2 separate regions of the Homo sapiens genome follow, and region 1 is linked to region 2. A link means that fine-mapping ties the variant in region 2 to the expression of a gene that starts in the linked region. Tissue or cell type: thyroid. Region 2 holds a variant in brackets; the other region holds the start of a gene. All regions are shown on one strand. Distances are from middle to middle.

What was found. PIP is the estimated chance that this variant, and not a neighbour inherited with it, causes the effect.
Region 1: RAD9A starts here. The variant in region 2 is fine-mapped to the expression of RAD9A in thyroid (GTEx, PIP 0.94).

Annotation. Positions count from the first base shown.
Region 1 is chr11:67,387,049-67,395,139 of GRCh38, reverse strand. It overlaps RAD9A (RAD9 checkpoint clamp component A), which reads right to left and starts at 3,154. Exons shown (of 11, transcript NM_004584.3): 1 at 3,062-3,154; 2 at 2,909-2,979; 3 at 2,358-2,486; 4 at 1,530-1,644; 5 at 1,350-1,449. The coding sequence starts at 3,095. It overlaps LOC100130987 (a long non-coding RNA gene), which reads right to left. Exons shown (of 4, transcript NR_024469.1): 3 at 7,469-7,605; 4 at 3,453-3,742. RefSeq lists enhancers at 2,533-3,037, 3,072-3,987 and a silencer at 2,938-3,307.
Region 2 is chr11:67,128,448-67,136,447 of GRCh38, reverse strand. The region is part of intron 2 of KDM2A (lysine demethylase 2A); the gene reads right to left. It overlaps LOC124902695 (a long non-coding RNA gene), which reads right to left and starts at 1,837. Exons shown (of 2, transcript XR_007062740.1): 1 at 1,801-1,837. The variant T/C (reference allele first, on the strand shown) is at 4,300.

The DNA.
Region 1 (8,091 bases), 260 kb before region 2:
GGTGAAACCTCGTCTCTACTAAACATATATAAATTAGCCGGGCGTGGTGGTGCATGCCTGTAATCCCAGCTACTCGGGAGGCTGAGGCAGGAGAATCGCTTGAACCCGGGAGGCAGAGATTGCAGTGAGCCAAGATTGCACCACTGCACTCCAGCCTGGGTGACAGAGCGAGACTCTATCTCAAAACAAAACGAGAGAAACAATTGCTCATTTTTAAAAAAAGAGACTGAGTGTGGTGGCTGACGCCTGTAATCCCAGTACTTTGGGAGGCTGAGACGGGCAGATCACCTGAGGTCGGGAGTTCAAGACCAGCCTGACCAACATGGAGAAACCCTGTCTCTACTAAAAATACAAAAAATTAGCCGGGCATGGTGGCGCATGCCTGTAATCCCAGCTACTCGGGAGGCTGAGGCAGGAGAATCACTTTTATCGGGAGGCGGAGGTTGTGGTGAGCCGAGATCGTGCCATTGCCTGGGCAACAAGAGCGAAACTCTGTCTCAAAAAAAAAAAAAAAAGACACCACCCTAAATGCAGACCAAGGAATTGGCCCCCGTCTCTCACTACCCAAAAGAGCTCTGAGCAGTGCTGGCTCAAAAGAACCTGGGGAAACAGATGTCAGGACCCAAAGGGATCTTCAGTCACCCTGAGAAATGAGCAGGACCTTGGGCCACTTGAATGCAAGCAGTGACCAGCATGGAGCAGGGGGAGAGCCCACTCCTCTCTGAGCTGGTCCTCGCCAGGGACGTTTGCTTCAACTGGAGTCCCCATTTCCCTGGCCCCAGACAGCCCCCAGTGCTCGGACTGCCCAGAACAGCTCCACCCCATAGCTGATTATTCAGCCTCCCTCCAGCCTCCTGCCCTGGCCTTGGGGACTCCTCGATCCTGGGCAGTCAGGAAAAGAGGCTGCCGTTGAATGGGGAACACCTCTGGAAGGATGCCCAGGCCGGAGAAGGGGTCTGAGCCTCTGAGCCACAGGTTATGGGCAGACCTTCAAGGTTACTCAAGCCAGACAAGAGATTTGGTGGCAGGCCAGAAATGTGCTCCCTAGAGGAGGAGTTGGAATGGGTTTGAGCAGCCAGAAAGTCAAGTCAGACCTTTGGGATGGAGAATGCAGGCTCCTAACAGTAAGGAGAATGGAGCAAGGAGGCGCCTGCCCCTCCTCCATGCCACCGTCTGCCTTTAAAGAGCCAGGTAAGGACCTGAGCACATAGCGGGCCATGGGATGTCTTTGAGGTTCACAGAAACTCTGTAGGGAAAATGAAAGAGGTACCTTCTAAAATCAACCCCTTGGGGCCCCAAAGAAGGAAGAGAGAGACCCGGGGCTGAGCTGAGGGCAGGGGTGTGCTCACCGTGCTGGGGCGCGGAGCATGTGGGGGCACGAGGCTGGGTCGAAGACGGCCTGCAGGGACTCACAGTCCTGGAAGGACAGGTTGTGAGTCTTCCGCACCCCTGGATGGGCGATAGGGTCTCAGTGGGCCTCGCCGACCTCCCTGCTGAGGCACCCCTTGGCTGGCCGGCTGCCCACTCACCGAACTTGCAATGCAGCTGGACCACCAGGCGGCTGCTCCGGCCATTCAGGGAGATGCAGCATTTTTCCACCGTCTTCTCCAGCATCGCCAGTGAGCGGAAGACAGACAGGAAAGACTGCATGGGATAAGACACCTCAGCCTAGCATCACATCTCTGCAACAAGCTCTCCTGTCCCATGCAGGCCCACACCCATCATGGGCCCAGCATGTAACTCTGGGAAAAGGGCTCCCACGTCACCTCGGGCACTGGCATCCTTCTAGGCCTCATTCATGCTCTTCCTTATGCTTGGAATGCCTTGAAAGACCTGCTTACCTTTTTTTTTTTTTTTTTTGAGATGGAGTCTCGCTCTGTCACCCAGGCTGGAGTGCAGTGGTGCGATCTCAGCTCACTGCAACCTCCACCTCCCGGATTCAAGCAATTCTCCTGCCTCAGCCTCCCGAGTAGCTGGGATTACAGGCGCGTGCCACCACGCCCAGCTAATTTTTGTATTTTTAGTAGAGACGGGGTTTCGCCATGTTGGCCAGGCTGGTCTCGAACTCCTGACCTCGTGATCCGCCTGCCTCGGCCTCCCAAAGTGCTGGGATTACAGGCGTGAGCCACCGCGCCCGGCCAAAAGACGTGCTTACCTTTCTTGACGAACTTGAGCGTCACCACCCTCTCAGGTCCCCGCTGTGATGCTTTTACCATGGCCCTCCCTGTGTTTTGCATGGATTGGGCTTGCACGTGTCTCTCTCCCCACTTAGCATCTACTGAGTACCCCAGGGCAGAGGCACAGCTGGTGGAGATTCCTGGGGTGGAGTAGTGCCACTGCTGAGGGAAGGGCCTCACCTTCATCAGGATCTTACAGCGCAGCAGGTCCTGACCAGGGGTGGCTGCCTGGTATTGCTGGAAGAAGAGCGGGGCAAAGAGAAAGCAGGCATAGGCAGAGCGGGAGGAGTTCACCGTCCGGAGGGAGAGCTGGGCCACGAAGAGCAGGGAGAGGGACGTGGTCAGGGGGCAGCCACAGACCCAGCCCTCTGGCTGCTTCTGCTCACACACTTGCCCTATCGTCCTCCCGCTCCGCCACCACCTGCTGAAAAACCCTCCTTTCCCCATGGAAGCCTTCAGAGTCGGCCCCGGCGCTGCTGCCGCAGAGGAGGGGTCGCACACCCAGGCCTTCCCCGAGTTTCTCTAAGTGCACGTCACCCCCTGGGAGCTCGCAGGACAGCTTTCCTCAATTCACACACCGGCCTGGGAAGATGACAGCCGCCAGACTAAGAAACTGAAACTTTGCCGACAAATCTGCCAGCGGTCATCCCGCCTAGTGGGGGCGAGACTCTAGTCCGGGTTACCCGCTCCCGGCTGGAGTCCCACCCGCCCCCCACACCCTAGCCCCTCACCCCGTCCTCCAAGGGTTCCAGGTAGAGCTCGTCCCCGATGCGGGACAGGGAGTGGACGGCCTTGCCGAGCACTGCGGGGAGAAGAGCGGAAGGGGGTTAGGCTGGCGGCTCCGCGGCTGCTGCACCGCCGCTGCCAGGCCGACCTGCACTCACCCTTCACGTTGCCGCCCGTGACCAGGCACTTCATGCTGCCCCAGCGCTCCGCCAGCGGCCAACACTGCCCAGCTCTCCGCGACCTCCGGGTCCGGGGTCCCTTCCCGCGCACCGCCCCTGCCGGCCCCGCCCCCGCCTCCCCATTGGTCCACGTGCAGGCGCCTCCGTCACGTGAGAAAAACGCTCACAGGCTCTGCCGTCACGTGACGGCGCACGTTGTCCGGGGTGTCACGTGACCGGGGAGGCCCGCGGCGCCCGCCAGCCAGCTGCTCCTGGCTCCCCCGGCACGCCTCGGCCTTCCGTGCCCCTGGAGATCGGGGCGTTCCGCGGGCCGCGCACCGGATTGCGAAGGTCAGAGAGGACGCAGCTGTGGGGCGCGAGGTCCCTGTGCAGTGGACCGAGTGCTGGACTCGGAGTCGGAGTGTGGGGGCGAGCTCTCTGGGGTCACCCACTTAGTAGAGTTCCCGGGCGTCTGCCGGGGGATACAGGGTGCAAGCAAGACCATCGCACCCACTCTGGGCCTGAGACTCGGACTCCAGCAGCAATCCCCAACTCTAGAAAGAAGTCAAAGCAGCTTGCTTGCAGCAGCCGGGAGTGGGAGGTGGCTGCTCCTTCCGGCTTCGAGGATCCTTTAAGGAAAAACGGCAGTTTCTCCAGGCAGAAAGGGGTAGAACGGTGCCCCTGGCAGAGGGAAGAACAAGAGTAAATGCTCAGCGGTGTGGGCTCCGCCCCCTGGAGAGGGGAGTAGGTCTGTGAGTCTCAGAGAGGCGTAGGGGCCGCCAGATGATGAGGGGCACCGCTGGGACGCTCTGGAAACGTTTTACGAGGGTAGATCGTGGTTATGTGCCTTTTTTTGTTTGTTTGTTTTTTGAGACATATTCTTGCTCTGTCACCCAGGCTGGAGTGCAGTGGCGCGAACACGGCTCACTGCCGCCTGGAACTCCTGGGCTCAAGGGATCCTCCCATCTCAGTCTCCTGAGTATCTGGGACCACAGGCACACCCACCACGCCCGGCCCTTTTTTTTTTTTTTTTTTTTTGGGTAGAGACGGAGTCTTGCCATGTTGCCCAGGCCGGTCTCAACTGTGGGGTTCAAGCTGTCTTTCCGCCTTGGCCTCTCAAAGTGGAGTGAGCTACTGCACCGGCCTGTTTTTTGTTTTTTGTGTGTGTGTGTGGGGTTTTTTTGTTTGTTTGTTTTGAGATAGAGCCTCGCTCTGTCGCCCAGGCTGGAGTACAGTGGCACGATCACGCCTCCCAGGTTCAAGCGATTCTCCTGCTTCAGCCTCCCAAGTAGCTGGGATTACAGGCGCCTGCCACAACGCCTGGCTAATTTTTGTACTTTTAGTAGAGACGGGTTTCACCATGTTGGCCAGGCTGGTCTCGAACTCCTGACCTCAAGTGATCCGCCCGCCTCGGTCTCCCAAAGTGCTGGGATTACAGGCATGGGCCACCGCGCCCAGCCCCGGGTCTGTATTTTTAAAAGACCCCAGACTGGCCGGGTACGGTGGCTTACGCCTGTAATCCTACCACTTTGGGAGGCCGAGGCGGGCGGATCACGAGGTCAAGAGATCCAGACCATTCTGGCCAACATGGTGAAACCCCGTCTCTACTAAAAGTACAAAAAGTAGCCGGGCATGTTGTCACGCGCCTGTAGTCCCAGCTACTCTGGAGGCTGAGGCAGGAGAATTGCTTGAACCCGGAGGCGGAGGTTGCAGTGAGCCGAGATCGCGCCACTGCACTCTAGCCTGGCAACAGAGTGAGACTCCATCTCAAAAAAAAAAACCAGACTGTGTGCCAGGTGGGGATGCATCAGCTGGAAGGTATTCCCCTTCCCCTGGGCTTCCGGGTCCACGTGTGTAAAATGTAAGGGAGTCCTGGAGAAACTCACTGACCCCTACTCTCCCCACAGTACCAAGGCTCTGGTAGTTCTTGGAAGGGCCCAGGGCATCCCTGTATTCCTGCAGGGCCTGCCCGTGCCTTGCCCCTCAGGTCCTGTGGTAGTGCAGAAGATATATTTATCTCTGCCACCCTTGCTCTCCAGACCCACTTTCAAATGAGTTGAATTGATACATAATAATTGTACACATTTGGATACATGCATACACTTTGTTTCTCCCTCTCCTTCCCTTCTGCTCCCCTCGTCACCAGCCCTTGCCCCTTCCGTGGAGCCTTGGGGGAGGAGGTTACTCTTCCCTTCCCCTTCCCGGGGGATCCATGGAAATAGTGCCCCTGTCCCTGGGCATCCGGCTCAGTATGCTGGAGTCATCCTTGACCTCATGCTCGCCCTCACCCCTACACAGTCTTTCAGTTAAGTCCTGACCACTCTGCTTCCCAAACAGGTGGCAACTTAACAGGTGGCAACTTTGCCCTCCTCTTCCATCTCCAAGGCCTAGGCCACCATCCTCTCACCTGGATGACTGTAACAGCTCTCAGTGGTCTCCTGCCTCCACCCTGCCCCCTCCAGGCCACTCTCCATACAGCAGCAAAGTGACCCTCCTAAAATGTCCATTGTGTCATGCCTCTCCCGTGTTTGCACACTCCAGTGGTTGCCATAAAATCCAAACTCTGCCCTGAACCTGCAGGAGCCGCCGCCACCCATTTCTCCACCTGTGGCCTCCCCTTGATCACCTGCACAGCCATGCCAACCCTGTGGGCTCCCTGAACCCTCCACTTCCTTTTCCACCTGGGGATTTTAGCACATCCTTAGCTGTCCCCACCACTTGGCATCGTCTTACCCCTTCTAACGTGGCGGTGCTTCTCTTCCTCCAGGCTCAGTGCCGTCTTTTCTGCCCCCACCAGCATCCCATTACACTCTAGCTAGACCCTGTTTTAGCCACAGCACTTATCACGTTATTTCATGCGTGTGTTTGCCTGTTTAACATCTGTCTTCCTCACTAGTGTGTCTGCCTCACAAGGGCAGGAACCATGTCTGGTTTTTGGTTTTTTGTTTTTTCTGAAGACAGAGTCTTGCTCTGTCGCCCAGGCTGGAGGGCAGTGGCGCGATCTCGGCTCACTGTAACCTCCGCCTCTGGGGTTCAAGCAATTCTTGTGCCTCAGCCTCCCAAGTACCTGGGAATACAGGTGTGTGCCACCACGCCCGGCTAATTCTTGTATTTTTATTAGAGATGGGGTTTTGCCATGTTGGCCAGGCTGGTCTCAAACTCCTGACCTCAACTGATCTGCCCGTCTCAGCCTTCCAAAGTGCTGGGATTACAGGCGTGAGCCACTGCACCCGGCCTTGGCTTTGTTTTGTTTGTTCTGTTTTGTTTTGTTTGTTAAGATGGGTTCTTGCTTTGTCACCCAGGCTGGAGTGTAGTGGCACGATCATAGATCACTGCAGCCTCAACTTCCCAGGCTCAAGCGATCCTTCCACCTCAACCTCCCGAGTAACTAGGGCTACTGGCGCATGCCACTACAGCCAGCTAATTTTTTAAATGTTTGTTAGAGACAAGGTCTCCTTCTGTTGCCCAGGCTGGAGTTGAACTCCTGGGCTCAGGCGATCCTCCTGCCTTAGCCTCCCAAAGTGCTAGGATTACAGGCGTGAGCCACCACACCCAGCATCCATGTCTGTTTTGTTTGTTGCTGTATGTACCTCACACAGGGTCTGGCACTCAGTAAATAATGAATAAATAGGTGTTACATTTAAAAATGTGTAAACCAGCCGGGCGCGGCGGCTCATGCTTAATCCCAGCACTGTGGGAGACCAAGGCTGGTGGATCACTTGAGCCCAGGAGGTGGAGATTGCAGTGAGCTGAGATAGCGCCACTGCACTGCAGCCTGGGTAAGAGAGCCAGACCCTTTCTCAAAAAAAAAAAAAAAAAAAAAAAGTAGGCCGAGCGCTATGGCTCACGCCTGTAATCCCAGCACTTTGGGAGGCCGGGGCAAGTGGATCACCTGAGGCCAGGAGTTTAAGACCAGCCTGGCCGACATGGTGAAACCCCATCTCTACTAATAATACAAAAATTAGCCAGGCATGGTGGCACGTGCCTGTAATCCCAGCTACTCAGGAGGCTGAGGCAGGAGAATCGCTAGAACCTGGGAGGTGGAGGTTGCAGTGAGCCAAGATCGCGCCACTGCACTCCAGCCTGGGCAACAGAGTGAGATTCTGTCTCAAAAAATGAATGAATGAATAAATATCTGTAAACCATTCCTGTTGACAAAGGGCATGGAAAAATAAGCAAACAAACAAATAAATAAATCAGCGTGAGCCAAATGCAGCTGAGATGTCTCTAAGTCACTCTTAGCACAGTGCTGAGAGAAACATCCAACTTCCAGCCCTCCACCCACAGTCCCATCTGTCCCTGCTTGACAGTTGTCCCCATGCTCTCAGCCTCATCCTGCGCTCTGGACCCCTCCCCCACCACGTGTAAACCAGGACAGCCTTCCCACCTCTGCCTCATACTCATTACCTGAGCAGCCGCCTGGAATAAGGGTAGATGCCGAAGCTCCGTGAAGGCAAGGGAGGTGGAGGCTGTGAATCTTCACACAGTCCTGTTTCTGCCCCTGACACCTAATGGGGTTATGGGGTTCTATGACCTTGAGGACCCTAGGCAGAAGAGAAGGGACACATAAGCTTTTTTTCATATGTTTCATATCTGTCTTCTCCACTAGTGTGTCTACCTCACAAGGCCAGGAACCATGTCTGCCTTTTATATCAGCCAGGGGCAGGTGTGAGCCACTGCCCCCAGCTGACATACACTCTTTCGACTCGTATTGAGTAGTTTTCAGTCACCCTCCCACCCCCTTGCCAAAAGTCAGAACTCGTTGGAACTTTCTGAAGGGCTTAGAACAGCAAGAAGCCTAGAGCGGGAAGTCGGGAGCTGTGGTAGGATACGTCCCTGCCCCCGTGTGATTTGTGCAAATCCCTCCCTGTCTCGGCTGCTTCCTCATCTGTATGATGTGATGGTGGGGGCTGGGGAGAGTAGGAGGTACTCACTGAGGTCCCTTCCAACCTTGACATGCTGTGATCCTGAAGGGGCCCCGAGGCTCCCCTATGCCCCTCATCCACCCCAGCTTGGGGGAGAAGCTGTCC
Region 2 (8,000 bases):
TCTCCTGAATGAGAACAGATGACTTGGGAAACACCCTCAATTCATCAGTGAAACATTTATAAACTGTGTCCCAACAAAGTTGATGAAGAGGCAGTATAACTTAAGTATGCTCTGGAATCACCAGACTGTTTACTTTGAATCCTGGCTCTGTCCCTTAACTGGATAATCTGAGACACTTAACTGCACTTTGGATCTGTTTCCAAAACTTTAAAATGGGAGTCAAAGAATCCATTTCAAAGGGTTCTTGAGAATTAAATTAGTGAGTATATCGAAAATGCCAGTACCAAGCACACAGTACACATTCAATCAATGTGTGCTATTATCCATGAGATTGGGTTTTTATCTCCTACTTTCAAATATGCAGTGTGACTTTTCCTTTACCTTATCCCCCAAAAATGGTTTCTGGCCTGGTGAAAAAATCAGATATTAAACAAACACACTAGTAACGTTAATTATAGTTACACAAAGGCAACAAAGGTAAACACAGAATGCAATGAAAGTATATGATAGGATGAGCTATCTAGAATCTAGACTTCAGTAGTGGGTAGAAACATCAGTTCATAGTTCTACAGGGTGTGCACCATTGAATTCCAAGGGCATCTTTATTCACATAGATTAAGATATGTGAATGGCAACTTTTGGGATTACCCAACATGTAGCACTGTCCACAAGTTCTGGCAACCCCAAGAATGGTGATGATCAAAAGACTAAGATGGTGATGATCAAAAGACTAAAATGACAAAAAGACACAAGAGACAAAGAAGTACTTTGCAAACTATAAAACTACTATAAAACGATCACTACATTTATGAATATATATTATCTTGAGGTCACTCTCAGAAACGAGTCATTTACGCAGATTACTGCCTTGACAAACAAAAAAGTTGCTAACGTCTGTGATCCAGGATCTAAAGAGATGAATTAAGGCTGAGGGCCACAACCAGCTCATGAGGCAGTTTTTCAGAGTGATCATGCGGTCTTCAGCTACAGGGCAATTAAAAATATTTTAACATTTGCTCACAACAGCACCACAACTTTTATCTCATTTCCCTATCCTTCAAAGAGAGTATCAAAAGGAAATCTGTGCTGGGCGCGGTGGCTCACGCTTGTAATCCCAACACTTTTGGAGGCCGAGGCAGGTGGAACGAGGTCAAGAGATCGAGACCATCCTGACCAACATGCTGAAACTTTTTCTCTACTAAAAATACAAAATTAGCTGGGCAGGGTGGTGCATACCTGTAATCCCAGCTACTCGGGAGGCTGAGGCAGGAGAATCGCTTGAACCCAGAAGGCGGAGGTTGTGGTGAGACGAGATCGCGCCATTGCACTCCAGCCTGGGCAACAAAAGTGAAACTCCGTCTCAGGGGGAAAAAAAAAAAAGAAAATCTTATCTGCTGTAGCTTAATGACTGATGTCTAGACAGTGAATGCTTATGTTACCGAAATAAGTTGATCTTTGCGTATGTTAAAAGGAGTAAAGAAAATATGCAACTGGGTTGAGGATTGTCATGACCATGAAGTTAGTTTTGTGAAAATTCAACAACAGAAAAAGGGCTTCATGCTTACTTTTGCAAAGCATGATGTGGGAAACACAATGTGAGACTGCTTTTGAGATGTTTTGTGTTAGATTTATCTAAAATTCAAGGCCAGGTGAGGTGGCTCACACTTGTAATCCCAGCACTTTGAGAGGCTGAAGCAGGTGGATCACCTGAGGTCAGAAGTTCGAGACCAGCCTAGTCAACGTGGCGAAATCCTGTCTCCACTAAAAATATAAAAATTAGCTGGGCGTGGCGACGCATACCTGTAATCCCAGCTACTCAGGAGGCTGAGGCAGGAGAATCACTTGAACCCAAGAGGCAGAGGTTTAAGTGAGCCGAGATCGCACCACTACATTCCAGCCTCGGCAACAGATTGACTGTCTCAAAAAAAAAGTAAATAAATAAATAAAACTTTAAAAAATAAAATTATAAAATGAATAGCAGATAATCAGGACGGAAACATGCAACCTATCTACTGGGTATTTCCCTTTACATCAGGGTTTGTCAACCTTGTACTACTGACATTCTGGACCTGTTCATTCATCGTAGTTAGGGCTGTCCTGTGCACTGCAGAATGCTTTAGCAGCATCCCTAGCCTCTACTCATTAAATACCAGTAGCACTACCCCAGTCTGACCATCAGAAATGTCCACTGCTAAATGTTTCCTTGGGGGCAAAATCATCCCCAGTTGAGAATCTGCTTTAAATCTTCTAGTATCTCCAACTGTCTAAAGCCTCATCCACTCATATTCTCTCCTCAAAGTTTCAAAAAATCTTTCCCCCAGTCTTCCTGGTAATCCAAGCTAAATCCCAAAGTCTACCTTAGTATTTCATTTGTCTTTGCCTTCAAAATCCTCAGAAAGCACACTGTACAACTTCAACAAGGACAGGTCAGTTTTCTTGTTTAAAACCACAGTTGGTGCCGGGCATGGTGGCTCACGCCTCTAATCCTAGCACTTTGGGAGGCCGAGGTGGGAGGATCACGAGGTCAGGAGTTTGAGACCACTCTGACCAACATGGTGAAACCCTGTCTCTACTAAAAATACAAAAATTACCTGGGTGTGGTGGCGCAGGGCTGTAAACCCAGCTGGCTGAGGCAGGAGAATCGCTTGAACCTGGGAGGCGGAAGTTATAGTAAGCCGAGATGGCGCCACTGCACGTCAGCCTAGGAGCCAGAGACTCTGTCTCAAAAAAAAAACCACAGTTGGAAGCCGGGTGCGGTGGCTCACGCCTGTAATCCCAGCACTTTGGGAGGCCGAGGTGGGCAGATCACCTGAGGTCAGGAGTTCAAGACCAGACTGGCCAACATGGCAAAACCCCGTCTCTACTAAAAATATAAAAATTGGCCGGGCGTGGTGGTGGGAGCCTGTAATCCAAGCTACTGGAGAGGCTGAGACAGAAGAATCACCTGAACCCAGGAGGCAGAGGTTACAGTGAGCAGAGATTAGGCCACTGCACTCCAGCCTGGGCAACAGAGTGAGATTCTGTCTCAAAACAAAAAATAAAAATAGGCCAGGCACGGTGGCTCACACCTATAATCCCAGCCCTTTGGGAGGCCAAGGCGGGTGGATCACTTGAGGTCAGGAGTTTGAGACCAGCCTGACCAACATGGTAAAACACCATCTCTACAAAAAAAAACACAAAATTAGCGCAGTGTGGTGGCGCACGCCTGTAATCCCAGCTACCTGGGAGGCTGAGGCAGGAGAAGTGCTTGAACCCTGAAGGCGGAGATTGCACTGAGCCAAGATAGCACCATTACACTCCAGCCTGGCCAACAAGAGTGAAACTCCCTCTCAAAAAATAAATAAATAAATACGAATAAAAGCACAATTGGTAAGAGACTTGATACTAAAACTCAAGGCTCAACATCCCCAATTAAGTACTCTTCTCTATCATAACATGCTGCTATCCATCAGTTACAAAGTTTAGTCAGTCCTTCACTGCCAATGTGTCTTGCTTCTATCTCTTCCTTTCCATTTCTACCTATAACCCACAGCAATGGTTCTCAAACTTTTGCGTGGATCAAAATCACCTGTCTTGTTAAAACACAGATTGCTAGGCCCCAACTCCAGAGTTTCTGGTTCAGTAAGTTTGGGGTGGGGCCCAAGAATTTGCATTCTAATATGTTCCCAGACACTCAGTTAATGCTCATGCTGCTAATGAGAGACCTACACTTTGAAAACCACTGCCTTAAGAGTTCAGGGTTCCTGTCACCTCAAAAGGCAAGCTATTTGAATTTCTTTCTAGACCACCCCGACCTGAAACTGGAGACATTACTCCCAAAATGCCACTTTGGCCAAATCACTGTTATATTAAAAACAAACTGGCTGGACGCAGCGGCTCATGCCTATAATCCCAGTACTTTGGGAGGCCGAGGCAGGCGGATCATTTGAGGTCAGGAGTTCCAGACCAGCCTGGCCAATAATAGTTGAGACCCCGTCTCTACTAAAAATACAAAAAATTAGCCGGGCGTGGTGGCACGTGCCTGTAATCCCAGCTACTTGGGAGGCTGAGGCAGGAGAATCGCTTGAACCCAGGAAGCGTAGGTTACAGTGAGCCGAGATCGTGCCATTGCACTCTAGCCTGGACATCGCAGTGAGACTCCATATCCAAAAAACAAAAAAAACAAAACTTCTAATGGCTATGTCCATACTTGGCTTTCAAAGTTGTTTAAAATTTCTACCCAACGTTATCAGCAGTGCCCCTCAAAAGACACCACCTACTTCAGTCTGCTCATCTATCAGAGATCCACAGAATAGGCCT[T/C]ATAGTAGTAGTATAAAGCTTATGCTGTCTTTACCACCTGAAAGGCCACCCTCTTCCCTCCTCCTCTCTACCTACCTGAAGGAGGCCTTCACCAATGTATTTGCCAAAAACATTCGTTTGGTCACTATTTGCTGCCTTTTATCTTTAGGGTTTAACTTTTTACCAAGTACTCACAGACAGAGAAAAACCCCAAGAACCTAAAATTTAAAACAGAAAACAAGGATATGAGTGACATACATAAATAAAAGCCTTGACATACACACAAACTGCACAATACTGCCGTTTTAACAGATCAAGTGCAATAAGTTCAAAGTTCATGAAAAGAAAGAATGTGCCATCTTTGTTTGAAACATAATCAAACACTGGCTATCAAATATTTATAGCTATCTAATTCAGGATGTTAAGCAGACAGACGTTAGCAAGAAAATGTTAAAGTAGGCGGAAAGTCGTGGCTCATGCCTGTAATCTCAGCATTCTGGGAGGCCAAGGCAAGTGGATCACCCGAGGTCAGGAGTTCCAGACCAGCCTGGCCAATATGGTAAAACCCCATCTCTACTAAAAATACAAAAATTAGCCAGGCGTGGTGGCACACGCCTGTAATCCCAGCTACTAAGGAGGCTGAGGCAGGAGAATTGCCTGAACCTGGGAGGCAGAGGTTTCAGTGAGCCAATATCGCACCACTACACTCCAACCTGGGCGACAAGAGCGAAATTCCATCTCAAAAAAAAAAAAAAAAGAAAAGAAAACACTAAAGTAGCCTCAAAAGAGAGAAAGTACTCAGCCTACACACCGTGGAGTAAGAGTGTTATTATTATTATTTTTTTGAGACGGAGTTTCGCTCTTGTCACCCAGGCTGGAGTGCGACGGTGAGATCTCAGCTCACAGCAACCTCCACCTCCCAGGTTCAGGCGATTCTCCCACCTCAGCCTCCCGAGTAGCTGGGACTACAGGCGTGCACCACCATGCCCAGCTAATTTTGTATTTTTAGTAGAGATGGGGTTTCGTCATGTTGGCCAGGCTGGTCTTGAACTCCTGACCTCAGGCAATCTGCCCGCCTCGGCCTTGCAAAGTAGTTGGGATTACAGGCGTGAGCCACTGCACCCGGCCTGTTTTCTGTATAAAGTACACAAGAGACGTTGGATGGTATGAGAGAAGAAACCTGGGAGTTTGGAGTCAGGGTACCTGAGTTCAAGGTCTGGTTTCACCTCTTACCGACTCTGTGATCTTGGGCAAGTCATGGCCCCTCCCTGGGCCTCTCTCTCCATAATTAAAAAAAAAAAAAAAATCAAGGTTTAAAACGATACCATCTACCTTCCAGGGTTGTTTTGAGAATTAAATAAGGTAATATATATGAAAGAACCTAGCCTACTATCTGGCATATAATAAATGTTTACTGAATTTTAACCCTTTTTGATGTGAAAGTGCAATGCAAAAATAAAGTATTATTCCAAAAGTGAGATAAACAGAGAAAATTAATGAAACCTAATTAAGAGTGTCCGTTACCCCCCCAAAATAGAAAGATACAAAGAATGTATGTCTATCTACATGATATACATAATGTATCAATTCCTTGACTTAATAACCAAAACCAAGACCCGAGAATAACACAAACATCATCACTTGCAACTTCACAGCTTTAAGGCTGTCTAAAGGTCAGCAAAACCTAGGCACAGTTTAGGACAGGATTAGAACAGGAGAGCTTAAGGCCGGGCATGGTGGCTCACGCCTGTAATCCCAACACTTTGGGAGGCCGAAGTGGGCGGATCACTGGAGGTGAGGAGTTTGAGACCAGCCTGACCAACATGGTGAAACCCTGTCTCTACTAAAACAATATAAAAATTAGCCAGGTGGTAAAGAGCAGTCAGGTGCACCTGTGAGGAAGTCAGGTGCCGTGACTCAGACTCGAGTAAACACGAAGTATGAGTTCAACCCAGAAAACTGCTCTCTCTTGGGTTTTGCAAACTTGTCAGAAATAAATCACTAACTTTAGAAAGCTTTGGTGCAAGAAAAAAAAAAAAATTAGCCAGGTGGGGTGGCGGACGCCTGTAATCCCAGCTACTAGGGAGGCTGAGGCTGAAGAATCACTTGAACCCGGGAGGCGGAGGTTGCAGTGAGCAGAGATCGCACCATTGCACTCCAGCCTGAGTGACCACAGTGAAACTGTCTCACAAAAGAAAAAAAAAAAAAGAATAGGAGAGCTTAAAATTCAGACTAAACTTTAATTTTTTTAATTTTTTTTTTTGAGACAGAGTCTCTGTCGCCCAGGCTGGAGTGCAGTGGCACGATCTCGGCGTACAGCAACCTCTGCCTCCCGAGTTGAAGCGATTCTCCTGTCTCAGCCTCCTGGGTAGCTGGGATTACAGGCATGTGCCACTATGCCCGGCTATTTTTCTTTTTCTTTTTTTTTTTTTTTTTGAGATGGAGTCTCGCTCTGTCACCCAGACTGGAGTGCAGTGGCGTGATCTGGGCTCACTGCAAGCTCCGCCTCCCGGGTTCACACCATTCTCCTGCCTCAGCCTCCTAAGTAGCTGGGACTACAGGCGCCCACCATCACGCCCGGCTAATTTTTTGTATTTTTAGTAGAGACGGGGTTTCACCGTGTTAGCCAGGATGGTCTCGATCTCCTGACCTTGTGATCCGCCCGCCTCGGCCTTCCAAAGTGCTGGGATTACAGGTGTGAGCCACCGCGCCCGGCCTATGCCCGGCTAATTTTTGTATTTTTAGTAGAGACGGGGTTTCACCATGTTGGTCAGGCTGGTCTTCAACTCCTGACGTCAAGCATTCCACTGGCCTTGGTCTCCCAAAGTGCTGGGATTACAGGCCTAAGTCACTGTACCTAGACAGACTAAACTTTTAAAATCAACTAGACACTTTATTATTTGTTCTAAATGGTCCAAATACCAAACATCATCAATGTGGTAGTCTGACATGTGTGCTACACATACGTTTTTATTTGTTATAGTTTAGGTCTCTGTTTCTTATCTACACTGCAAGACCCAATATCCAGATATCCTCCTCATCCCTACCTGCCAAAGTGTCCTCCATTCTAATTTATTCATTTTTTTAGAGACAGGGTCTTGCTCTGTAGCCCAAGCTGGAGTGCACTGGCACAGTCATAGCTCATCACAGCCTTAAGCCCCTGGGCTCAAATGATACTTCTGCCTCAACCTCCTGGGTAGCTGGGACCACAGGTGAGAGCCACTGCATCCAGACCCTCCTCCACTCTAGTGGCTTAATCCTAGCATTCAAGAAAATTGGTAGCAAAGAAGAGCATATATCCAGGCTTTCAACAATATCAACAAATACTTATTCAGCACTTGCTATGTGTTAGGCCCTATTTGAAGCATCTAGCACACAGCATAAACAAAAACAAAGCCCCAACTCTCAAGAAGCTTATACTCTAGTGGAAAGCTATACACAAAGTACAGTAGTGATTAATGCTCAGCAAAATAAAACAACAGAAAATAATAGGGCTTAAATTTAATCCTCATTCTAGGGGCCCAAAATATAGCTTACTGTGGAAGACTGATGTATAAGAATAAAAAATTAGTTGTCATTATCTGCATTTTTGAATCACCCAAAAATGGTCAAGTTTTTCCTACATTATTAGGAGGGAGGCCGCAACAATGAGACCAGTGCACTCTCTACCAACACAGACTAAAGACTAAATCTCATAAAATAATTAGAAATAAACTAATTCA